4 linked regions of the Homo sapiens genome follow. The protein of the gene in region 2 interacts with the protein of the main gene of each other region in a biochemical or structural test. Each region holds a gene or a part of one and is shown on either strand. Other genes may lie near its edges.

Region 1 (7,619 bases), on a different chromosome or scaffold from region 2:
AGCCCTTCCTTCTTTAACTCGGTGTCTGAGGGGTTTTGTGTGTGGCTTGTTCTGCTACATTTCTTGGTTCCCTGACCGGGAAGCGAGGTGATTAACGGACAGTTGAGGCAGTCCCTTAGGTAGCTTAGGCCTGCCCTGTGGAGCATCCCTGCGGGGGACTCCAGCCAGCTTGAGTGACATGGATCCTGAGAGCAGTCCCTGGTAGGCAATTGCCCTGGTGGAATGCCTCATCAGAGCAGTGCATGGCAGGCCCCTGTGGAGGATCAACGCAGTGGCTGAACACCAGGAAGGAACTGGCACTTGGAGTCCGGACATCTAACAACACCTGTATGGGATTTGTATGCTTAAAACCACACAACGCTGATGAACGAAATCAGAAAGCTGAATAAATGGAAAGACATAATGTGTTCATGGATTTAGACTCAACATCCTAAAGATGTCAATTCATACCAAATTAATATATAGGTGTAGCACAATTTCTACCAATATCGCAGCAAGATTTTTTGGAGATATACACAAACAACATTATTTTAAAATTTATAAGAAAAGGAAAAGGAAGTAGAATAGCTAAAGCAATTAGGGCAAAGCATAAATACAGTGGCTCACGCCTGTAATCTCAGCAGTTTGGGAGGCCAAGGCAGGCGGATCACTTGAGGTCAGGAGTTCAAGACCAGCCTGGCCAACATGGTGAAACCCCGTCTCTACTAAAGATACAAAAAATTAGCCAGGCGTGGTGGCACCTGCCAGGAGATTGAGATCAGTCTGGAAGACATAGTCCAACACTATCTCTACAAAAAAATTAAAAATTAATGGACATGGTAGTCCTAGCTACTTGAAAAGCTGAACTGGGAGGGTCACTTGAGCCCAGGAGTCTGAGGCTACAGTGAGCTATGATCACACCACTGCTCTGCACTGTGGGCGCAATCTGTCTCTAAAAGAAAACAAGGGCCAGGCGCGGTGGCTTAAGCCCATAATCCCAGCACTTTGGGAGGCCGGGTGGATCACTTGGGGTCAAGAGTTCCAGACCAGCCTGGCCAACATGGTGAAACCCTATATCTACTAAAAATGCAAAAATTAACCTGGCATGGTGGTGTACACCTATGAAACCCTGTATCTACTAAAAATGCAAAAACTAGTCTAGCGTGGTGGTGCGCACCTATAGTCCCAGCTACTCGGGAGGCTGAGGCAGGAGAACTGCTTGAACCTGGGAGGCAGAGGTTGCAGTTAGCCAAGATCACGCCACTGCACTCCAGACTGGGCAACAGAGTGAGACTCCCTCTCAATAAAAAAAGAAAAGAAGAAAAGAAAAAAGACTGTATGGTGTTGGTGGAGGGAAAGACATATAGATCAATGAAACAGAACAGAGAATCCAGAAATAGATGTACACAAATATGCCCAACTGATTTCTGACAAACATTCAAAAGATTCAAAATGGAGGACATATAGTGTTATTAACAAATAGTACTGGAGCAATTGGACATCAAGAGGCAAGCAAACAAACAAAAATGAACGCTGATATAACTCTTACACAAAAATTAACTCAGGCTATGGCTCACACGAGTAATTCCACTGCTTTGGGAGGCTGAGCTGGGAGGATTGCTTGAGCCCAGAAAGTAGGGGCTGCAGTGAGCTATGATCTTGCCACTGCACTCCAGCCTGGACAACAGAACAAAAAACAAACAGGCTGGGCACAGAGGCTCCCGCCTGTAATCCCAGCTCTTTGGGAGGCCGAGGTGGGCAGATCACCGGAGGTCAGGAGTTCAAGACCAGCCTGACTAACATGGTAAAACCCTATCTCTACTAAAAATACAAAAATTAGCCAGGCGTGGTGGCGGGTGCCTGTAGTCCCCAGCTACTCGGGCAGCTGAGGCAGGAGAATCACTTGAACCTGGGAGGCAGAGGTAGCAGTGAAGAAAAAATTGATCGACCAGACTTCATCACAATTTAGAACTTTTGGTCTGTGATAGGCCCTATTAAGAGAATGATTAAAAAAAAAAAAAAGCTCCAGAGTCAAAGAAAATAATCCGCAATCCACATATCTGACAAAGTACTGTTACTGGTGGAGGGTGTTCTTGGCATCTTGAACAGAGAATTGGACAAAACGCACAAACAAAGCAAGGAAAGAATGAAGCAACAAAAACAGAGATTTACTGAAAATGAAAGTACGCTCCACAGGGTGGGAGCAGGCCCGAGCATAGGGGCTCAAGGGCCCTGTTACAGAATTTTTGGGGGCTTAAATACCCTCCAGAGGTTTCCACTGGTTTCTTGGTGTATGTCCTATGTAAATGGAGAGGATGAGGTAAAGTTAGAAAGTCATTTACTCCTCGTATGCCCTATGTAAATGAAGAGGATATTTCCTGTCACAGCTGAAGTGTGAATTGGCCTTATGTTCCCTGCCTCCAGATCCTATTTTCCTGCCTCAGTACTACTATCTAGAATACATAAAGAACTCTCAAAATTTAACAATCTAATAAGAGTAGATGTAAAAGACTTGAAGAGAATTTCACTGAAGAAGCACATAAACACAGGAAAAATGTTCAACATTATTAGCCATTAGAAAATACAAATTAAAACCACAAGAGGCTGGGCATGGTGGCTCATGCCTGTAATCCCAATATTTGGGAGGCTGAGGTGGGAGGATAGCTTGAGCCCAAGAGTTTGAGACCAGTCTGGGCAATGTGGCAAAACTCCGTCTCTACAAAGATTACAAAATTTAGCAGGGCATGGCAGTGCATGCCTGTAGTCCCAGCCACTCAGGAGGCTGAAGTGGGAGGTTCATTTGAGCTTCAGAGGTGAAGGCTGCAGTAAGCCTTGTGATCACGCCACTGCACTTCAGCACTGGAGACATAATGAGACCCAGCCTCAAAACAAACAAACAAATAAATAAAACCACAACATACCACAACACATCTACCAGAATGACTAAAAAATAGTGACAATGCCAAATGGTAGTCAGGATGTGGAGAAACTGGGATTACAGGGGTGAGCCACTGCGCCCAGCCGGAAATGCCCAAAAGTTATCCTGTATGGTGTAAAAGGGGAGTAACCCTCAGTTCTGAGGGAAATCCCTGCCCCTTTCCTAGGGATACAGAAAACTCATGAATAATCCATCCTTTGTTTAGCATACAGTCAAGAAGTAACTATAAGTATACTTGACTGAGTATACTTATAGTATGGGCTCGCTGCTCTGTCTATGGAGTAGTCATTCTTTTATTCCTTTAATTCTCTAATAAACTTGATTTTAGTCGGAGGTGGTGGCTCATGCCTGTAATCCCACCACTTTGGGAGGCCAAGGCAGGCAGATTGCTGGAATTCAGGAATTCGAGACCAGCCTGGCCACCATGGAAAAACCCTATCTCTACAAAAAATACAAAAATTAGCTGGGCTTGGTGGCTCACACCTGTGGTTCCAGCTACTAGGAAGGCTGAGGTGGGAAGTCACTTGAACCCGGGAGGCAGAGTGCACCACGGCACTCCAGCCTAGGTGACAGAGCAAGACTCTAAAAAAAGAAAATCCAAAAACCCTTACTTTCAGTTAAAAAATTTTGTTTTCAATTCATCTACTGACTCCCTGGTATCTACAACTTAACTAGTCTAGTGAACTTGGGGAAGTTACTCCTTTTTTTTTTTTTAAGACAGAATCTTGCTCTATTGCCCAGGCTGGAGTGCAGTGGCACGATCCTGACTCACTGCAACCTCCACCTCTTGGGTTCAAGCGATTCTACTGCTTCAGTCTCCCGAGTAGCTGGAATTATAGGCACATGCCACCACACCCGGCTAATCTTTATATTTTTAGTAGAGTTGGGGTTTCACCATTTTGGCCAGGGTGGTCTCAGACTCCTGGTCTCAAGTGATCCGCCCACCTTGGCCTCTCAAAGTGCTGGGATTACAGGCGTCAGCCACTGCTCCTGGCCTCTAGTTACTTCTTAAACTCTCTGAACCTTGTTTTTTTTAAATCCTCTAAATAAGGATAACAGTTCATAATTCCTAACTTTTGTTATGAAAATTAAAGGAGTTAATATATATTATGTGGAGAAATGTAAATTCTAGTTCAAAAAATAGAAGAAATAATGTAAATACTGATTTATTTATCTGGTGAGAAATGCAAGGACATTTTTGTTTGGTGGTGGGTATTAAAAGGCTAAGGTATTTATATTCCACTGGATACATTTGGAAGAATGATTAACAGTGTTATTTCAAAATTTCAACATTGAGAACACACTAGGACTTACATCTTTTTCAACTCATCATGATGAAAAATTTTGTCAGCGAAATGTGTTAGGATTGTTTTATAAAAATCTTTCACGTCGATGAGCAAATATCTTAGAAGACTACTGCTGAGGAGAAATGTTATTTATCCAGAGAGTTGCCTTAATTAGGAGACCCTACATAGCGCCCAGTAGAAATGTAATAAAGGCATTTCACTTATTCCCTTCCTCAGCCCTGCCGTGAACAAAATTGAATGAAATCAACCACGCTCCGAGTTCTCGCCTAGACGCAGCCTGTAGTAGCCAGGTTTCACCACTAGGTGGCACACGCCAAAGGCTCCGGCGGGGGCGAGCCGCCCGAGCACGCCTCTCGGTGGCCCCGTGGTATCTCTCGGCTTCCGTTGAGCACCAAGCAAGATGGCAGCTTCCGAGACGGTTAGGCTACGGCTTCAATTTGATTACCCGCCGCCAGCTACCCCGCACTGTACGGCCTTCTGGCTTCTGGTCGACTTGAACAGATGCCGAGTCGTCACAGATCTCATTAGTCTCATCCGCCAGCGCTTCGGCTTCAGTTCTGGGGCCTTCCTAGGCCTCTACCTGGAGGGGGGGCTCTTGCCCCCCGCCGAGAGCGCGCGCCTTGTGAGAGACAACGACTGCCTCAGGTGCGCGGCGCAGGGAGCGGGACGGCCGGGTGGGCGGCGGGCGGGGGACGCGCCTGCGCACGCCCGGGCCTGAAGCCGCTAGACCTGGTAGTGGAGGGGATGGGGGATGGGGAAGGGGACGAGGGTTGGAGGGGGGTGGGGCTGTAAAAATGCACGTTCGCGAACCCCGGAGATCCTGATTGGTGTAGTCAACTTTGGGGCTCAGGAATCTGCATTTTATTATTATTTTTTATTATTATTTTTTTTTTTTTGAGACGGAGTCCTGCTTTGTCACCCAGGCTGGAGTACAGTGGCGCGATCTCGGTTCACTGCAACCTCCACCTCCCGGGTTCAAGCAATTTTCCTGCCTCAGCCTCCCGAGTAGCTGGGACTACAGGCGTCCGCCACCACGCCCGGCTAATTTTTGTATTTTTAGTAGAGATGGGGTTTCACCATATTGGTCAAGGTGGTCTCGAACTCCTGACCTCAGTTGATCCGCTTGCATCGGCCTCTCAAAGTGCTGGGATTGCAGGCGTGCACCACCGCATCCTGCCCCTATTATTTTTATTTTTGAGACTGAGTCTCATTCTGTCACCCAGGCTGGAGTGCAGTGGCGCGATCTCAGCTCACTGCAGCCTCCACCTCCCGGGTTCAATCGATCCTCCCACCTCAGCCTCCCGAGTAGCTGGGCTTACAGGCGGGCGCCACCATGCCCGGCTAATTTTTTGTTTGTTTGTTTGTATTTTTAGTAGAGACGGGGTTTCACCGTGTTGGCCAGGCTGGTCTTGAACTCCTGACGTTAAGTGATCCTCCCGGCTTCCCAAAGTGCTGGGATTACAGGCGTGAGCCTCCGCGCCTGGCTGGAATCTGCAGTGTAACGAGCATCCTTCCCGGGATGCTTCTGATGACAGGAGAATCAAACTTGGAAAATCCCTGATGCCTAAGGGCAGGGCCAGGCTTTCTTTCAGCCTTGATTTAGCACATCCGCGCTTAGCTAGGCACTGTGCGACTCTGTTGCGTGCCCATGGTGCAGATGTGCCGGAGACCCGGCCTTACCCATGGCGGCCTTCAGGGTCAGGTGCAGGAAGCTGACAAAGGGGAATCGTTGTGTTTTCTTCATAACCTGCTGTTGTCCAGCCTTAGTTCTCATGTGCCCAGTGTCCCCTGAGACTTCTGGTGGCGTATCATTTTGTGTCTCACCCAGACATTTTGGGATTCTCTCAAATAAGTGTCTTGAGTCCTTTTGGGCTGTAAATTGGGAAACACAAAATAATCTTAAATATGCTTTTGGAAGTTAAAAAAATGATAATGAGATGAGTATCCAGGAGCAATTGTAGTGTGAATTGCTGAAATGTGGTTGAGTTGCCACAGTAAGATGATGGTATCTGATCATTCCAGTTTGGATTCATATCTTGGACTGATTTATTCAGACTTTTTTTTTTCTTTTTTAAATAAAGAGACTGGGTTTCCCATGCCCAGGCTGGAGTGCAGTGGTACGATCATAGCTTGCTGTAACCTTGACTTCCTGGGCACAGGCAATCCTCCCACCTCAGCCTCCCGAGTAGTTGGGACTTCAGGCCAGGCAACCACGCCTGGCTAATTTTTGTATTTGTTGTAGAGACAGGGTTTCGCCATGTTGCCCAGGCTGGTCTCGAATCCCTGGGCTCAAGCTGTCCTCTCACCTCAGCCCCCCAAAGCACTGGGATTACAGGCGTAAGCCACTGTGCCAGCCTTCCTTCCCCCACCCCCTTTAAGCTTCAGCTACAGTGAATTAATTCCAGAGTTGTGAACCAGGCTATTTTCTCTTGCTGCCCTTTGTCGTTGAATATTCCTTACCCTCAAGCATGTCAGATTCCGTAAGATTTCTTCAGAACATCAGGGAATTTAATTTGGAACAGTAACTGCATCTTTAAATCAGGATATTATGATTTATTGAATAATGTTCAACTGTTTCAAATGACAATTTGAAATAATCCAAATTTCAAAGAGTTTTTTTTCCCCCTTTTTATTGACTGTGAAATAGGTCTCTATTCTCTCTGCAATTCAAGGATTATTTAAATGTTACAATTCTAAGGATTGTGTCCCATCCTATTAAGTTTACTTTCTGAACTGTCTCTTGCCTAATGAGTTAATAACTTGTGCTAACTATAATTATACTTTAATGAATCATGTGGGCATTACATTCTTCATAATGAAGTTAACAATGACAAAAACAAACCATGAAAACTGTTATAAGTAATAATTACAACACGATGACAGGCAAATCTTTCCTAAATGCTTCAAATGCACAGCTGCATGTGGCAAAAAATACCTCTCTAGTGGCTTCAGTGGCAAATGGGCAGACCGTAGAAAAAGATGAATCTGGAAAGTTCGTCTTTGTTTTTGTTGTTTTATGTCCACAATCATTGTTTTTCCCTGGCAAATTCACTTTTCTTCAGAGCTACGGAAGAACACATAGTCTCTATTCTCAAAGTACCCAATATTGTTGGACTGGGACCCAAATAATGAGTCTCATGCTTTTGTATATTACCTTCTGTGATACAGACAATTAGACTGAATAGTTAGACCAAGTTATATGGTAAGTGCAGAAGCTGGTTGAGAAAAGGGAGATCAGCATGGAACAAAATGGTTAGGGAATTGAGCAGTACCTTGAAGAATGGGTGGGAAATGTTGGATGATCAAAGCACAGTTATAGAGACAAAAGCTGGCTGGACTTGGTAAAAAGATGAGTCTGACCAGCCAAAGCATTCTGTTGGGATCATTGGCAGTAC
Region 2 (4,881 bases):
TTTTGGCTTTTTCCTTGTTTGGTTGATCTTCCCCATTCTGGCCAGAGCAGGGCTGGAGGGAAGGAGCCAGGAGGGAGAGAGCCTCCCACCTTTCCCCTGCTGCGGATGCTGAGTGCTGGGGCGGGGAGCCTTCAGGAGCCCCGTGCGTCTGCCGCCACGTTGCAGAAAGAGCCAGCCAAGGAGACCCGGGGGAGGAACCGCAGTGTCCCCTGTCACCACACGGAATAGTGAATGTGGAGTGTGGAGAGGAAGGAGGCAGATTCATTTCTAAGACGCACTCTGGAGCCATGTAGCCTGGAGTCAACCCATTTTCCACGGTCTTTTCTGCAAGTGGGCAGGCCCCTCCTCGGGGTCTGTGTCCTTGAGACTTGGAGCCCTGCCTCTGAGCCTGGACGGGAAGTGTGGCCTGTTGTGTGTGTGCGTTCTGAGCGTGTTGGCCAGTGGCTGTGGAGGGGACCACCTGCCACCCACGGTCACCACTCCCTTGTGGCAGCTTTCTCTTCAAATAGGAAGAACGCACAGAGGGCAGGAGCCTCCTGTTTGCAGACGTTGGCGGGCCCCGAGGCTCCCAGAGCAGCCTCTGTCACCGCTTCTGTGTAGCAAACATTAACGATGACAGGGGTAGAAATTCTTCGGTGCCGTTCAGCTTACAAGGATCAGCCATGTGCCTCTGTACTATGTCCACTTTGCAATATTTACCGACAGCCGTCTTTTGTTCTTTCTTTCCTGTTTTCCATTTTTAAACTAGTAACAGCAGGCCTTTTGCGTTTACAATGGAACACAATCACCAAGAAATTAGTCAGGGCGAAAAGAAAAAAATAATACTATTAATAAGAAACCAACAAACAAGAACCTCTCTTTCTAGGGATTTCTAAATATATAAAATGACTGTTCCTTAGAATGTTTAACTTAAGAATTATTTCAGTTTGTCTGGGCCACACTGGGGCAGAGGGGGGAGGGAGGGATACAGAGATGGATGCCACTTACCTCAGATCTTTTAAAGTGGAAATCCAAATTGAATTTTCATTTGGACTTTCAGGATAATTTTCTATGTTGGTCAACTTTTCGTTTTCCCTAACTCACCCAGTTTAGTTTGGGATGATTTGATTTCTGTTGTTGTTGATCCCATTTCTAACTTGGAATTGTGAGCCTCTATGTTTTCTGTTAGGTGAGTGTGTTGGGTTTTTTCCCCCCACCAGGAAGTGGCAGCATCCCTCCTTCTCCCCTAAAGGGACTCTGCGGAACCTTTCACACCTCTTTCTCAGGGACGGGGCAGGTGTGTGTGTGGTACACTGACGTGTCCAGAAGCAGCACTTTGACTGCTCTGGAGTAGGGTTGTACAATTTCAAGGAATGTTTGGATTTCCTGCATCTTGTGGATTACTCCTTAGATACCGCATAGATTGCAATATAATGCTGCATGTTCAAGATGAACAGTAGCTCCTAGTAATCATAAAATCCACTCTTTGCACAGTTTGATCTTTACTGAAATATGTTGCCAAAATTTATTTTTGTTGTTGTAGCTCTGGATTTTGTTTTGTTTTGTTTTTTAAGGAAACGATTGACAATACCCTTTAACATCTGTGACTACTAAGGAAACCTATTTCTTTCATAGAGAGAAAAATCTCCAATGCTTTTGAAGACACTAATACCGTGCTATTTCAGATATGGGTGAGGAAGCAGAGCTCTCGGTACCGAAGGCCGGGCTTCTTGAGCTGTGTTGGTTGTCATGGCTACTGTTTCATGAACCACAAGCAGCTCAACAGACTGGTCTGTTGCCTTCTGAAACCCTTTGCACTTCAATTTGCACCAGGTGAAAACAGGGCCAGCAGACTCCATGGCCCAATTCGGTTTCTTCGGTGGTGATGTGAAAGGAGAGAATTACACTTTTTTTTTTTTTAAGTGGCGTGGAGGCCTTTGCTTCCACATTTGTTTTTAACCCAGAATTTCTGAAATAGAGAATTTAAGAACACATCAAGTAATAAATATACAGAGAATATACTTTTTTATAAAGCACATGCATCTGCTATTGTGTTGGGTTGGTTTCCTCTCTTTTCCACGGACAGTGTTGTGTTTCTGGCATAGGGAAACTCCAAACAACTTGCACACCTCTACTCCGGAGCTGAGATTTCTTTTACATAGATGACCTCGCTTCAAATACGTTACCTTACTGATGATAGGATCTTTTCTTGTAGCACTATACCTTGTGGGAATTTTTTTTTAAATGTACACCTGATTTGAGAAGCTGAAGAAAACAAAATTTTGAAGCACTCACTTTGAGGAGTACAGGTAATGTTTTAAAAAATTGCACAAAAGAAAAATGAATGTCGAAATGATTCATTCAGTGTTTGAAAGATATGGCTCTGTTGAAACAATGAGTTTCATACTTTGTTTGTAAAAAAAAAAAAGCAGAGAAGGGTTGAAAGTTACATGTTTTTTTGTATATAGAAATTTGTCATGTCTAAATGATCAGATTTGTATGGTTATGGCCTGGAAGAATTACTACGTAAAAGGCTCTTAAACTATACCTATGCTTATTGTTATTTTTGTTACATATAGCCCTCGTCTGAGGGAGGGGAACTCGGTATTCTGCGATTTGAGAATACTGTTCATTCCTATGCTGAAAGTACTTCTCTGAGCTCCCTTCTTAGTCTAAACTCTTAAGCCATTGCAACTTCTTTTTCTTCAGAGATGATGTTTGACATTTTCAGCACTTCCTGTTCCTATAAACCCAAAGAATATAATCTTGAACACGAAGTGTTTGTAACAAGGGATCCAGGCTACCAATCAAACAGGACTCATTATGGGGACAAAAAAAAAAATTATTTCACCTTCTTTCCCCCCACACCTCATTTAAATGGGGGGAGTAAAAACATGATTTCAATGTAAATGCCTCATTTTATTTTAGTTTTATTTTGATTTTTATTTAATATAAAGAGGCCAGAATAAATACGGAGCATCTTCTCAGAATAGTATTCCTGTCCAAAAATCAAGCCGGACAGTGGAAACTGGACAGCTGTGGGGATATTAAGCACCCCCACTTACAATTCTTAAATTCAGAATCTCGTCCCCTCCCTTCTCGTTGAAGGCAACTGTTCTGGTAGCTAACTTTCTCCTGTGTAATGGCGGGAGGGAACACCGGCTTCAGTTTTTCATGTCCCCATGACTTGCATACAAATGGTTCAACTGTATTAAAATTAAGTGCATTTGGCCAATAGGTAGTATCTATACAATAACAACAATCTCTAAGAATTTCCATAACTTTTCTTATCTGAAAGGACTCAAGTCTTCCACTGCAGATACATTGGAGGCTTCACCCACGTTTTCTTTCCCTTTAGTTTGTTTGCTGTCTGGATGGCCAATGAGCCTGTCTCCTTTTCTGTGGCCAATCTGAAGGCCTTCGTTGGAAGTGTTGTTTACAGTAATCCTTACCAAGATAACATACTGTCCTCCAGAATACCAAGTATTAGGTGACACTAGCTCAAGCTGTTGTCTTCAGAGCAGTTACCAAGAAGCTCGGTGCACAGGTTTTCTCTGGTTCTTACAGGAACCACCTACTCTTTCAGTTTTCTGGCCCAGGAGTGGGGTAAATCCTTTAGTTAGTGCATTTGAACTTGATACCTGTGCATTCAGTTCTGTGAATACTGCCCTTTTTGGCGGGGTTTCCTCATCTCCCCAGCCTGAACTGCTCAACTCTAAACCCAAATTAGTGTCAGCCGAAAGGAGGTTTCAAGATAGTCCTGTCAGTATTTGTGGTGACCTTCAGATTAGACAGTCTTCATTTCCAGCCAGTGGAGTCCTGGCTCCAGAGCCATCTCTGAGACTCGTACTACTGGATGTTTTAATATCAGATCATTACCCACCATATGCCTCCCACAGGCCAAGGGAAAACAGACACCAGAACTTGGGTTGAGGGCACTACCAGACTGACATGGCCAGTACAGAGGAGAACTAGGGAAGGAATGATGTTTTGCACCTTATTGAAAAGAAAATTTTAAGTGCATACATAATAGTTAAGAGCTTTTATTGTGACAGGAGAACTTTTTTCCATATGCGTGCATACTCTCTGTAATTCCAGTGTAAAATATTGTACTTGCACTAGCTTTTTTAAACAAATATTAAAAAATGGAAGAATTCATATTCTATTTTCTAATCGTGGTGTGTCTATTTGTAGGATACACTCGAGTCTGTTTATTGAATTTTATGGTCCCTTTCTTTGATGGTGCTTGCAGGTTTTCTAGGTAGAAATTATTTCATTATTATAATAAAACAATGTTTGATTCAAAATTTGAACAAAATTGTTTTAAATAAATTGTCTGTATACCAGTACAAGTTTATTGTTTCAGTATACTCGTACTAATAAAATAACAGTGCCAATTGCAGATGTGTGTCTTTGCCTTCTGTTGGGTCCTCAAGGAAGAGGCCAGGAAAAGAGTGCTAATTCCTCCTCCTTATTGACCCCCGCTCACGAGTTCTCCCTGGGTAGGTCGGAGGTAGGGAGGTGTGACATGAGGCATTGCCTTCGCTGCTAATGTTTTGGGGGGAAGAGTACGTGTGAGATGAGGTTCTAAGATAAAAGGCACACAGCCACACCTGATGTCTTGGTTTCTTCAGTTCATGTTTATGCCTCCTAGCTGAACACTGCTGTTCACAAGAGGTATACTTGTCTTTAAACATGTGGTAGCTTCATGCGCTCGTGTGGCATAATCTATACACTCCTTACAGATTTGCTCTAAACTGGTTAGTGGTCTGTAAGTGGAAAATTTATTTTTACTTCCTGTAATTCAAGCTCATTAGAAATTCAGCGAGCAGACCGGGCACAGTGGCTCACGCCCATAATCCCAACAGTTGGGGAGGCCGAGGCACAAGGCCTGCTTGAGCC
Region 3 (7,032 bases), on a different chromosome or scaffold from region 2:
TGTAGCCTAGCAGAGGCAGTTGTCACTCTATGCATCAGGGTTACCAACCAACATGTCTTCTGGTGGATCTTTAAAGCCTTACGCTGTGGATCGTCAAACCAATTGCTGCAACCATGGCACCTTCCCTGTGGTTTGCTAAACAAAATAGGTGGTAACTGCACAATACCTTTTAGCCAGTTTATTCTACTAGAAATGCTTCCTTCAACCTCAATTTTCAAGATGACTAGCAATCCTTCCTGACAAGGAAATTGGAGAAACTTGCTATATTCTTTGGTTTACTATATACTGTTCTCATTTATAATCCAGAAAAAGTCATAACTAATGATACAAAAGTCACTAGTACCTGGTATGAAATGCTTATGGTGTTTGCAGTTAAAATCCCTAGATCATGAATACACTTCTCAGATTGTTTTCTTTGGCGATAATGACAGTAATTTTCGGCTATGAACTATCTGTTAAGTCACTTGCTTGAATGCTGACTCTCCAAAAACAAATCATTTTTACGTATATAAATAATGGAGGGCCAGGTCAGATGAGAGAGGATTAATAATAAGCACTATATATAATAGGCCCACTAACTATAGTCATAAAAAATGACCTGAATGAATTATATGCTTTCTACTTGTGGGCAATGGCAAAGAGTAGGATAAGTTTTGTTAAACATGTATTTCCTAAATTGTCAGAACCTTATAAACTTCAAAGGGGAAAGTCAATGGCTAAGGATCTTTCCTAGAAAACTTTTGGGATTAGGCATTTTGTGGATGTATCTTCATATTAGAGCAAATACAAAATATAATTCTGTACCAGGTACCACATATCATATCTTTGAAATGATGTCTTACAAACATGGCTTGACTGAACTGGCTATTATTTACTTCCCTGAAAAGCCTTTCTTTACTATGACTACCTTTTCCTGTGTCAAATTACATCTCTGCAACAGAGGACTTGGATCATTAATTATATACCAATAGCAACTGTGTGGCAGTAACACCAGAATTTAATCTATATAAATGCCAAGAATCAACAAAAGACATGCCAACCTCATATTTTTCTTTTTCTTTTTTTGAGATGGAGTCTCACTCTATCACCCAGGCTGGAGTGCAGGGGCCCGATCTCGGCTCACTGCAAGCACCACCTCCTGGGTTCACACCATTCTCCTGCCTCAGCCTCCTGAGTAGCTGGGACTACAGGCACCCGCCACCACGCCCGGCTAATTTTGTTTCTGTATTTTTAGTAGAGATGGGGTTTCACAGTGTTAGCCAGGATGGTCTCGATCTCCTGACCTCATGATCCACCCACCTCAGCCTCCTAAAGTGCTGGGATTACAGGTGTGAGCCACCATGCCTCACATTTTTCTAACATCAAAACTCAAGCCTGAGTATCTTTCAAAAGCAAATATAGAAGCCTGAAGAGACTGATAAATCTTATGCTTTATGAAAGGGGGCTGTCATTAATTATGGACAAAGGACACTATGTGGTATTTATAGCATGTCAATTTCAAGTGGTGCTGTTGCTAGTTCTGCCACTAAACTACCACGTCAATCGACATTTGTCCCAGTTCTATTCGAAGGAACTGCCTACTGTGTACCATCTGACTCTCAACATTGTCCCCTTCTTCTGTAGGGTGGATGGAGATCTGAGAGAGCACAATGCAATCCATGGCTATGTATGGGAAAAGCATAAATGTTTCTGTGTGGTACCCAAAAGCTCAGAGTTATATCCAGTGGAACTTGTGAGACAACAATGGATAATGATACATGTATATGATAATAAGTAAGGCAGTATGAATCTCATTTAGCTGATTAATGGGAAAATTTAAAGTGTTACCTGAGCATGGAATTTGTGAGCGCAAGGCAAAACTGAAAGATTTTCTGGAGACAGATTCTCATGACAGATCACACAAGGCTCTTCTTCTTCCTCTTCCTCATCCTAGGGAAAATACAGAAAATGTTAAATTTAGCTCATTGTTTTCTCCCAAATCTAAATGTGTTCAGAATCAAAAATTTCAGTCTCACTGGATTACTGGCTCCTTCCCATGTGGCAGGACCCTGTGAAGTGAGTGGCCTCCAGGCTGGTTTTGGGGGCTGGGCAGCATCAGGCTGTGATGGAGAATGACTAGGTGAAACACAATTAACATTTGACACTGATTTTCCTTGACTCTGAAAATAAGAACATAATGTTTATTTTTTCAGAATTATCCTAAAACAGTAAGAGCTGAAACATTAGTACAGAACGGGGTATAGTAAGAACTAGCAAAAGGGTAAATAATCAGATTTGTGAGAAATCTTGAACAAAATGGTGGCAATACTTATATACTCAGAGCTAGGTAAAAACAAAAATAACTCTATACATTCTTTTAATTAAAATAAATCTTTCAAGAAAATTAGAAAATCTCTCCCTCTTTAGACTCATTCAAAGAAACTAGAGCAAATTTCAAGGAGGTCAGTTTTATTCTAGAATGATTAGGTAACAGGTATTTCAAAAAGACTTCTGATATCATTTGTTAAGTTGAAGTTGTTATTTACTGTTAATAGATGATTTAATATGATTACAAGTTACTGATTTTCTGAACAGGTTATGGAGATATTTAAAACAGTTAACTACTAGAGTTAAGGGCAGAGAGATACAGGTTTTTTGGTTGTTTTTGCATTTTACCTGAGACTTTTTGGGGTCAATAAACTGGGAAATCTTGCAAACAATTTCATCAAATGTCAGTTCAGACAAGGATTTTCCATAAGCATCCTTCAATTTCCGTAAGAAATCTGTAAGTTCCTTTCTGCAAGAGATCAAGGAAAGGAAAGGGCAGTAATGATTTTCCTTAGTACCTTTGAGGATGTACCCACCAAAGGAGATATAAAATCCTATCGCATGATTGATATGTAGCATACAGACAGGACTCTTTAGGTCTTTGATCTAAAAAAGTGATCACAGGTCCATCTGCATTTATCTTAAACCAAAAGGAAAACTCCTAATTGTGTTCATTAATGATACTTAATGTTTTCATGAGTGATAAAGTTTAGTACTTATTTTCTTTCCAAAAAGAGACTTCGTTTTTGAGAGCTCACTAGGTGAAAATTAAGTTTATCCACTTATTTATGCATTGGGTTCTTTATACCATCTCTCAAGTGGTTTCTTGCTCAGGATAACATATTTATTTTTAACTATGTTGCTATTGGTTTCTCTCTTCTTTATCAGTGTTAATAGTTGTACTTTCGTAAAACTCAGAAAACAAAGATTAAACAGAACAGGAAAGCAAGGGTTAAAAATCACATTAATTATATAATGAAAGAACCCACAATTATTTTAATTGATATGTTCCTTTTTAATTCCCAAGATCCATTGATCCAAAGCCTGCATCTACAGTTTTGATGGGACAAAGTAGAATGAAATATTTTTGTTTCCCAAATGAAGTGTCATGTCATCAGCCTTATGCAACTACCTTTGATTTATAATGTTTTTATACATATTTATAACAACTGTACTAGAGTTCTATTTTATTATCTATTCACTATTATGAAATTTATAAAATTATAATTTAATAATGAAGTGTGCCAGTATATATATTAAATGTTTGTATTGAAATAAAAATACTTGTGAAAAGTAGAATTATTTCCTTAGATATGAGTTGAGATAAAAGAAACTTCATTTGTGTAGGAATATAATTAAATATCTTTCTACTAAAGGTAGACTGTGAAAAGCACAGTAAAGTTATGATTTCTTGCATTTTTAGTGTGTTCTCCAACAAAGAAACTATAAGGACCCTCAAAATTAAGGAAATTAGGAAATTAAATCCTAAAGATGTTTGGGCTTATATAGCATACAATCAACTTAAAATTCACTTTGGAGATAGGTTAAGATAATAATGGCAGTTAGTGCCATTAAAATTGGGTAAGTTTACATCTAGTTGTACTTTTAGTAAATGAGCATACCTAAATTTAAAGTTATTCTCTCATGATTTAAGACAAGTAACTTTTTAATGAAGAGGTTCACCATTGAACACTGTCTCTTCTTGGTAAATTTCTTTTTCCTTACCAAGGTCAAGGTAAGGAAACATCTGTACTTTTTTTGTGTTTGTTATGTTTCTCTGAAATGTTTCATTGCCACAATTATGGCTATGAAAACTGGAGAATATGATCTGTACCCACCAATAAATAAAAACTAAGGTACCTGGTTTGCTGTGGAAAGGCAGTTTTCAGCCTGTCTGTAATTCTCTCCCAATTCATGATGGAGGGATCACTCCGCAGACCTGCACTGGGAGGCACAGCGTCTCCCACAGGCGCTGGCAGAGCCCAGGCTATGCCAGTCATCTGTAAGAGGCAGAGAGCTATAGCCCAGCAGGTTTAATTATTAAGAAGTGACATTCCTATACCTCAGAAAATGGGTACAATGAAGAAGCGTACTGGCATACACATTCAATTTTTACAGTTTTTCTCTTAATATTTCTAATTGTTTGTAACTATTTTAAACTTATTTTAAAAATAGGACAAAGAAAAGGGTAGAATGAAGAAGAATACTGGCATACACAATCCCTTTTAGGGTTTTTCTCTTAACTAATACAAACAATATTTCTAACTGTTTATAAATATTTAAACTTATTTTTAAAATAGGACATGCTTGCTTCAGTAATTACATACATGTACAGCAAAACATGAAGGCTGTTTACTGCTGTTTCTCTTTTAACAGTGAAAACTGAAAAAACCTTACATCTATAGAGAAATGAATAAATTATGGCACATCTAATCAAGTTTTTAAAAATAGAACTGTATGTCTGGGCATAAGAGATATGCATGAAATATGATTTTTTAAAAAGTCTGTGGCACAGTATTTATGATACGACTTCCTTTTACATTAAAAAATTTTAAATGCATATGTATACACGGAGAAAGGTCTGTAAATTACAATGCGTAAGAAGTGATTATTTCTTAGGGATCAATTGCACAGTAACTTTGTTTTCTAATGTGCTTACATTTCTATATTATTCGCATTTTGTGATTAGCATATATACCTTTATAACGAGAAAGTAAAGTTACATTTTTCAAACAACCAAATAAAGATGGGAATACTACTAGAACTGCTCTGCCCAATGTCTCATCAATGTTGTAGACAAAAGTGGTGCAGAAGTTGTAGTGACATGCAGCCATGAAACCATCACTTTTCTCCATATTTTATGGTAGTTCCTTCTTAAGATTCTAATTAAATAATATAATAACAGAGTATTTTTGGAGTGCTCATCTGATTACTAAGATAATTATGACCACTTGCACCTTTTATGTAAGGCTCTAATGGGTTATTTTCAAATATTAGGTTATTATTCATGAAAAACTAGCAACTACTAACAGTCACTGTAATAATTTGTACAGAGCCTAAGAAGTGAGGGGAAGCAGAATATTTCCCAGAAATCTGAATTTGCTTCTATGTCAAGCTTTACCCCAGGAATCAGAAAGTAATCTTATTAGGAGATTAAGGTATTTTAATGTTTTTAATAAAATTTTATCATAGTTTCTTATAGAATGGTGGGCAAGCAAATTGCAAGAGTTAACACTGTAATATCATGGTAGTAAAAAGATGTGTTACTTATTTAACATATTAAGGACTATATACAGATTTGTTTATAGACAGGTAGCCTCGACAATAATAAGCAGAGTCCACCTGACCATGTATTTCAAAAGGAAACTGTTAGCAATATATGGGGAGCAGAAAAGAAAAGAAACAATTAATTGCACCTAATTATACTTATAGGAAAATCAAGATTAGAGAATTTTCATTAATTACATCTAACATCATTCTTTTGGAAGATTTTCCTTTAATAAAAAACCTTCACCAAGATTACAACTGATAATTCTGGTAATTTCAAATTTATATGTTCCTTCTTCAGGTTTGGATAAAGTTTATCTGGCTATTTGTAGCTGGGAAGATTTATAACTTTACAGTTTATGTTTCAAGGTGATGCTATTTATAGTCTGTTTATAGATACACTTGAAATACTGTCCTACTATGTGTGTGTACGTGTGTGGAAATAAAATTTTTCTTTAGCTTTGTGCCATAATATAGTTTGTTGTGACTTGGCTTCTTTGCTTTTCAATCTTCCCAACAACCATGCCAAAAAAATCTATTAAAAATGTCAATTTACCCTGCATTGTTGCCTATTTCAGAAGCAATACTATAATTTTAAGGATTCTCTAGTATAAAAACATATTTATCTTTGTATCCCAAAACGAAGCTAGTATCAGTTAAATAATATATGTAACACCCTGAGCACAGTGCTTCACAGGAAGTATTCATTCAATTATCACCACCACCCCCATCATTATCATATCAAATGAATGAACAAAATGAAGATACTCATTCAGGAAGCCCACTAGAGTAATAAAAAAACTAATTAACATCTATTCCACCAAGAAAGCTTTTACCAGGGGGGCTCTAGGTTGGCCAGTTGCAGAGACGACTCCCGGGCAAACTGCAGGCATTTGAGGAACAGTAAGTATGGGTCTAAAGAAAGATTCTTTCACAAGAGGTCTTCCTAAGAACTGCTGCATCTAAAATAGAAAATATAAACAATAATAAACAACACCCCCCCCCACATATTTATATATTTATTTAGGCAATCATCTAAATTCATACAGCAATATGGCGGGGGGAACACTCATTTGAACTCAAGATACAAAGCACATTAGAAACAATGTATGTCAGAAAATGAAACATATGAATATTGGAAAAACAAAGGGCAATGAGATATATTGAAAACAGCATTGACAAAGACAGAAAAGAAATAGCTTCTAGTCACATTTCTCTCTACGTAGCTGAATAACCTTGGAAACCAATTTCCTAATCTATAAAATGAGAGGGTTGGATAAGGTAATCATTAAGGTTCCCTCCCAACTGTAATCACATAGAACTATGCAAAGGAGATTCTCAGGAAGTGTTATCTATGTTGGTGGGCAATATTGATACTCAGAAATTTCACAGAACAACCCAAAGTTATCCATAGAAAATATTTTATATTGGAGGTAATACTTGATGAAATTTTGACTT
Region 4 (7,032 bases), on a different chromosome or scaffold from region 2:
GTGACAGTGGAGGCAGGGCAGAACACCCCTCAATCACATCTGAAAACAGCACACATGGTGGGGCTGGAAATCAGTGGGCCCAGTCTCCCTTCCTCCTTCCATCTGCATCAATCTGTTTCCATCGGTGCTTCAGAACCAGCGCCTGTTTTAACAGTCTGGCATCAGAATCTTATTTTAAATGCATCAAAATTCACTGTGAGAGCCAGCACTCCGGTCGTGGGAACAAGACCCTACGGAATTCCTCAGTGGGTCTTCAGGGGCCCCATGGGATGGGGCTGCAGTATGGGTACACAGACTTCACCAGTGTGAAAGCTGAGGTCATCAGCCATGGAGGCTAGAGGCCTGGGCTGCTTGGGAAGCATCCCAGGAGCAGGGAGCTAATGAGTAGGGATGGGAAGGAGGGAGGAGGAGGAAGGGGCTGTCGTTCTGCTAATCAGAGCGGACAACCCTGACCTGCCTCTGTTCTGCTGTTGACCTCTGATGTGACCACAAGGTTGGGGACTAACAGTTTGGAATGGGAGCTAGAATTCAAGGATGAGAAGTCTTCCTGTCCACTGCCTCAGAGGCCTGCTTTCCATTCCTAAAAATGCAGGATGGCACAGCCAGATGGCCGCTCTGACCGTGGAGGCCAATCAGCCCATTTTACAGATGGGGACACTAGAGCTTAGGAAGGGACCTGTTCCTAGGCCACACTCACTGCACAGTCAGAGATAGGGACGGGACTTTCTCTGCTGTTCCACACTGCTTCCCCTTGGAGGAGCAGTCTATGAGAGCAGCGGTTCTCAAACTTGAGCATGCACCAGCATCACCGGGAGAACCTGTTAAAACACAGACTGCTGGGCCCCACCCTGAAGATTCTGATTCCAGAGGCCTGTGGTAGAGCCCACAGGTCTGCATTTCTAAGAAGCTCCCAGGGGATGCTGATGCCGCAGGTCCTGGACTACATGCTGAGTAGTGCTGGGCACTCCTTGGGACGGCTGAGGGTGAGGGCAGTGCAGGAAGAGCCAAGGGCCATGCTGTGAGGGGTCTGGTGGCCTGAGGACCAAAGAGCAAAGCTGTGGCCAAGCAGAGGTGTCTGTGCAGCCAGGAGGAAGGAAGCAAGCTTTGGAAGGTCAGGCTTTGGAAGCAGGGACATGCATGGAACATCAGTTTCTGTCTTTGCTGATGAGGCCCCTCTGGGATGAAAGGAGAAGGGAACAGAGTTGGCCTCTGGGCAGGTGGAGGGTGGGGGACCCTAACCTCATGAGGGGCAGTTTGGTTTGGAAGGCACTTTGAGTTGCCATGGGCTGCCAGGGCTGTAGCCAGCATCACCTCAGACTGTTCTGTGTGGGAGCTGTCAGCAGGTGTCCAGGGGCAGGGGCTGGGGTCAGGGCAGAGCTGTAAGGACACCCAAGGTAGTGGCAGGTGGGATGGATGGGGCAAGACCAGGGCCACCTAGAGAGCCCAGAGGTCATGCCTTCCTCACTCAGGACCTCCCTGGTTCTAGCTCCTGGAAGGAGGGGCTAATAGGAGTCTGGTGCACACCTAGGGTGATGGGTGCTCAGCTTTGGAACCTTCTCTGTAGGATGTTTAGAGAAGGGAAATTTGGTCCCAGAGAAAGGGAACTGATTCTGAACCAAATGACAACTGAGGGCTGGGTACCAGGACCTGGGAATGCTGTGATGGGTGGGGCCTGGCTCAGGGACCCCATCCCTCTCTGCCCACCAGAGACTCCAAGCTGGTCACCCCCTCCTCTCAGCTCTGCTGGGAGGCCCTCTCTGCCAAGCCACGGCCAGCAAGTGGGGTGGAGACTCCTTCTGCCCGTGCCAGCGCCGGACCCTCCAACAGGCCTTCAAAGTAGGTGCCCAGAGCCTGCAGGTTGAAAGCAGGCTGGGCAGGGGGCAACGTGGTGGTCTGCAGGCTTAGATAGCGGCTGTACTTCTTCAGGCCCCCCTGCCGGTCACGGCGGTGTGCACTCAGCAGCTCCATGAAGCTCACGTTGTGTAGGGCCAGGAGGCGGGCCTCAGCCCGGGGCAGCACAGCTGCCTGCACCAGGGGCTGCAGGGAGGCAAAGCACTGCAGGCTACTGAAGGGGTAGACATGCTGGGCCAGCTGGGGGCCCGGGGAGACCTCGAGGAGGCGGCACAGGTCACGCATGGCCAGCACGGCAGCCATGGCGCTGCGCTCGCTCATGTTTCTCGCCAGGTAGGTCTGGGCCAGGTTCTTGAGTTTGAAGCTGCTGGCCCCGGGCACACGCTCCCGGATGAGAGGCAGGGCAGCCAGGAAGCCCGAGATGGCCTCCTGGAATTCCCACAGCCTGTTAATGTCCTCCAGGGCCCGGAAGAAGTTTGGGAGGCCAGGCCCCCACAGCTTGTAGCAGGCCAAGATAGGGCGGCGCATGGAGCTCAGAAAGCTGAGGAAGTGCTGCAGCCCCACCTCCAGGGACACGGCCTTGGAGTAGATGCTGAAGAAGGCTTCAGGCTGGATGACCACGCGGAACTTGCTTTCCCGGTTCACCGCAGCCAGCTGGCTAATCTTCTGGGCTGGGCAGGAGAGAAGGGCAGGGTGAGGACCCAGGGTCACAGAGAGCTCTGGGGTGGGAGCAGGGGGTCCTCTAGGGCTGCTGACTCACCATCTAGAGACCTCACCTTGGGGTCTGCTGGCAGTAGCCACACATCAGCCCCCAAATGCAGCTCTGATCCTGGTTGTGGTGGGATAGCAGTCAGAAGGGGAGGCTCGGCTGCCCTCCAAACACTTTGTTCACCAGCTGGGGATCCAGCTCTCCCCTCCTCCACTACCGGCCCCAGAGTTGGCCAAACCCCATGGATACAGGTCCCTCCTGTCTTCTATCAGCCTCAGCCACCTATACTAGAGATCCCAGGCTGCTTGAACTTAGCTCTCCATCCCATGCTCCTTCCTCCAATCCCCTCAAGGACCCCAGCCCAGTCAGAGCCCTGGGACATAGAAAGCACTCCACTCAGAGCAAGGCCAAGAGCCTCCCACTGAGGTCTGCAAATGACTTTTCTGTACCATGAAAACACTTGCTGTTTCTGTCTGGCTGGGCTAGCCCCAATGTTGAGTCCATGCCACAGGGTAGGGCCTGGGGCTCTGGCTCAAGGAGGGGCATTTGCAGAGCCAGGGCAAGCACTGGAGGAAGTAGAGGGGCTTCCAGGATAAGGGGTCTGATCCCTCTGTGACCTTGGATCTGTGGGCAGCCCTGTGCAGCCACCTGTGGGATTGGCCCTCTACTCAGAAACGTGTAGCACAGCCAGAGGCCTTACTTGGATGACAGGGCTCACGGCAATGAGCTCACGCATTGTGTTTCTGTCTAGGAGTGTGTTCCCCAGGCTCTCTGTCTGAGAGAAGAACTGGTCAGAGGTGCACTTGTGGAGGCATCTGCCTCTCTCGCACACTCAGGCACTGGATAAGGCGGACATCTTTATTCAAGCCAGCAAATGACACGCCAGGAGCCCAGGTGAGCCGGAGTGCTCTGCCCAGCCTGGCTGCAGTTGTTGGCCAGAGCTCAGAGCTCTCCTGGGCCTGGCAGATGGCTCTGCCTGCACTTCTTTTTGGGACTCAGAGACTAAATTAGAAAGGGGTGGGGGTAGCCCCAGGAGAACCCACTTTCATTGTCAATCTTGAGGTCAAAGAAAACCAGAGGTCTGTCTTCTGCTTGGGGGTCAGCAAGGTTCTCGTCCAGGACCCTGAGGGTGCTGGGGCCTTCCAGCTGGAGGTCACTGGACTCACTGCTGCTGTCATCCAGCTCTCGGGAGGACTGCAACACAGAAAAACCAAGCGTCAGGGATTCAGAGGGCCAAGGCAAGCACCTGTGCAGAACACTAGCAAGCTGGTATAGCTGGGAGCATCTGCGTGCACATGAAGGAGGGTGTACCACTGGGAAAGGGGACGTGTGCACAAGAGAAGGTATGTGTGCATGAATGGGTGTGAACTGGGTGTGTCACATGTGAGGGTTACATGTATGAACCAGGGCATACACCCTCATGAGTAGGGGAGGAAGGGTGACACACACAGGTTGTGAACGTGCATGTGTGGGAATGAATCCAAGTGCTAAATCTGTGTGTGCATGCACAGTTAAGTGTGAGCTGTGAACCTGCGTTGACACAAGTGTATGAAAGTGTGAGAGAAAATGCCAGTGGGTGTGTGCATGAGTGTGCTGTGCTGCTTATGGAGGCTCAGGGAAGGAGCCATCTGCTATGGCAGGCAGGACCTGAGATGTCTGCTCCTAATTTCATCTTTCTGAGCAGACTCAGAAGAAACACCAAAACTTGGGACGGGAGAAAGAAGCCTCATCTTGAACCCCAGATGATTCTTTGGAAGGGGTCGGGAGCCTGCCTTTTCTTGTCCCCGAAGTCAGCCGAGGTGCCAGTGTCCTACACAAAGGCGAGGGGAAGGACTGCTTGGCCTCCTGAAGGCCACATCTAGGTGGACACCCAGGTCCTTGGCAGTGAGAGAGCAGTGGAGGCTCTTGGCATCTGCCCCAGCAGCTTAGAGAAACCTGAGTTTTGGGAGTCCTTCAGGTGAGGCGTTCTCTCCTGTCCCAAGGTCCTGGTGGGAACACTGTTCGAGAAGCCATGGGGTGGGGAGCCAGAGGATGAGGGAAGGGCTCCAGCTCTGAGATTTTCCCAAGGGACTGGGACTACAGAGGGAGGTGGAGCCTCTGATGGTAATACAGAGTTAATTGCTTATCATCTGCTCAGCTGCCAAGCCCAGATGTTTAGTCTTTGATGACCAACTTGGAACCTCCCATGAATGCCACCTGTGGACGTTAGCCAGAGACCAGCAAGGAAGAGACATGGACAGGATCACAGGGCCAATTGGGAGCATGGCTGGGACAGAGTCCAGGGCAGGCCTTGGGTTTTTCCTCTTTATGGACTGCCGCTGGCTTCTCAATGAAGTTGGTGTCACCTGGTGCTAAAGCCTCAGTTAATTCTGGCCTCTGGCTAATGTCCCTGGCCTAGGAGGCAGCACATTTCCCCAGACCCTTCCAATGCCCAAGTGAAACATCTGCTTCCAACCAAGCTTCAACTGAGAGAAAAAGCGTTTCCACCCACAAGTAACCTAAGATGTGGTGGGTTTTTGTAGGAGTGGCTGGATTTCACTGGATTTGCATTTCACAGCCCTGCTCCAGGCTCATCAGCTTTCTGCCAGTTATTGTCAGAAGCAGACACTCACTATGAATCCATCTAGAGCTGGCTTTGCCTCTTCATATCCAGGGATCTAGTCAGAGAGTCTGCCCAGCGCCTCGCATCTCCAGATCCTCATTCAGCCACGCTGTCAAAAGCTGATTTCACACGTCTTGCTCCGGGTGAGCCCACACTGCTGTCTCGCCTTTCCAACTCGGTTTCCTCCCTGTAAGGAGCCTTCTACAAGGCGTCTTCCTAGCTTGTAGCTGGGTGGCTGGAGACTCCACCTTCTCCCGCTTTGGGAGAATCCAGTTGTTTCCTCTCTCCAGGCTTCACTGGGCAGCAGCGCTCTCCCACAAGCTGGTGGAGGGGCTGGGCTCCCCTTCTGGGTCCTCCCTGGTTCAGATCCTTGGTGCCAATAGCTGAGGCTGAGTCCATGCTGCCACCCACTGACATGGCACACAGGACTTTCTCTTTTTCGTTCTTCTTCCTGCTCCAAACCCAACTGGAAATGCCCCTTTGTGTTCCTGAGTGCCTCCACAAAGCTCGGGGCAATGTCCTCGGCCTTAGAACCAGTCTTCCCGCCTTCAGATCTGCTCTTCCAAGAGGAGAGCTCCCTGGAGAGCCACAGTACTGTCTCTTTAGGCCACCCCTCCCATCGTTACAGCAGGGTCATTTATGGCAGCCACTAGAACCTCGTTTTTAGAGCCTTCCATTGTCCCGGGGCCAGGGAAATGTCCTTTGTCCTAAACTTACTCGAGCTGCCTTCTCTAAGAAACCTCTACTGTCTCCTTTAATAAAAGGACACCCCCTTTCCACCAAGCTTGTTAATGGAGGAGAGGCTGGACCTTTCAGCCCTGACTCACTTCCTCCAAAATTCCTCTTGCCCTTGGGGACTTCCATAAAGTATGGCCACCCATGGAGCTGGTCTCACTGGAACTCCAGCCAGCTGTAAACCCAGAATTCTCCCCTGCTCCGCCTTAAACTCCAGCATCACAGCTGGGGAGTGCTGACGCATTTAAACAAGACTTTCTGAAAGACTCAGGTTTGCCAGCAGGGCCATCAGACATAGTGGCCTGGTGCAGAACATACTCCCCTCCCTGCTCACTAGGGGAGACTCTCCCATTCTGCCCCCAGGCCCCACACCTTGGCCTTATTCCGCAAATTAGGATAACTGGGTGTCGGGGGAGCATAGAGAGGGACAGTCACTGGAAAAGACTTAGATTTGCTTGGAAGAGAAAAGGAAGGGGGACAGAAGAAAGAAGATGGGAAACAGAGCCTTGAGCCTGCGTGTGAGGACCGGGAATCAAGGGGGAAAGCTTTGCTATGCAGTGAGAGATGCCAGGCGCCAAAGAAAAGGGGAAGAAGGACTGAAGAAGTGCTGCTGGGGTTATGAGCTGGATTCCCTTTAATGTTCTTTCAAAAGATGCAAGTAAATACTGGGATTTATTTCTTTATTATACTTGGTTAATGGACATTGTTTCTTTGAATGCAAAACTGTGTTCAGGCTGAGCCTCGTGAGAGCCAGGATTTTTTCAGGATATACATGCAACTTGGATACACCTGCAATCTGGCTCATGAGCTACATCCATCTCACTCCCCTTCCTCATAGATTTCACGGCCTGAGCAGGTCAAGTGCATTCTAACTCAACACAGCAGGTCTAACAGTCGTCCCAAGCATGCTCAGAGGAAGTGGCTGGATTGGCATTGTAATCACACTCCAAAAGTCCAGGAGGTACATCAGGGAAGATCCAGCCTCTCCCCTCCTCTGCGGTATTACACCCTGGTATGAAAATGTCACCTGCATTCAAGACTGCCACATCTATAAACAAATGAGCAGCATTCCTCTACCACAGACATGCAATGAATCCCCCGATTCAGTGGTTCTTGACTTTGGTTAGGCATTCAT

The links.
Region 1: the proteins of ATXN1 (region 2) and COIL form a complex in vitro, tested with the Homo sapiens proteins (2 studies listed by BioGRID).
Region 3: of the proteins of ATXN1 (region 2) and DZIP3, one has a biochemical effect on the other in vitro, tested with the Homo sapiens proteins (one study listed by BioGRID).
Region 4: of the proteins of ATXN1 (region 2) and PML, one has a biochemical effect on the other in vitro, tested with the Homo sapiens proteins (one study listed by BioGRID).

The regions. Positions count from the first base shown.
Region 1 is NC_000017.11:56,958,025-56,965,643, reverse strand, and holds the start of COIL (coilin), read left to right. Parts: upstream 1-4,593; 5' UTR 4,594-4,624; coding exon 4,625-4,869; intron 4,870-7,619. UniProt on the Homo sapiens protein: Component of nuclear coiled bodies, also known as Cajal bodies or CBs, which are involved in the modification and assembly of nucleoplasmic snRNPs.
Region 2 is NC_000006.12:16,298,612-16,303,492, reverse strand, and holds the end of ATXN1 (ataxin-1), read left to right. Parts: 3' UTR 1-4,381; downstream 4,382-4,881. UniProt on the Homo sapiens protein: Chromatin-binding factor that repress Notch signaling in the absence of Notch intracellular domain by acting as a CBF1 corepressor. Binds to the HEY promoter and might assist, along with NCOR2, RBPJ-mediated repression. Binds RNA in vitro.
Region 3 is NC_000003.12:108,683,720-108,690,751, reverse strand, and holds part of DZIP3 (E3 ubiquitin-protein ligase DZIP3), read right to left. Parts: intron 6,537-7,032; coding exon 6,411-6,536; intron 4,325-6,410; coding exon of another isoform or gene 4,308-4,324; coding exon 4,168-4,307; intron 2,777-4,167; coding exon 2,656-2,776; intron 2,160-2,655; coding exon 2,016-2,159; intron 1,930-2,015; coding exon 1,828-1,929; intron 1-1,827. UniProt on the Homo sapiens protein: E3 Ubiquitin ligase proteins mediate ubiquitination and subsequent proteasomal degradation of target proteins.
Region 4 is NC_000015.10:74,039,711-74,046,742, reverse strand, and holds part of PML (protein PML), read right to left. Parts: intron 3,755-7,032; coding exon 3,604-3,754; coding exon of another isoform or gene 3,563-3,603; exon of another isoform or gene 3,405-3,562; intron 2,523-3,404; coding exon 1,735-2,522; 3' UTR 1-1,734.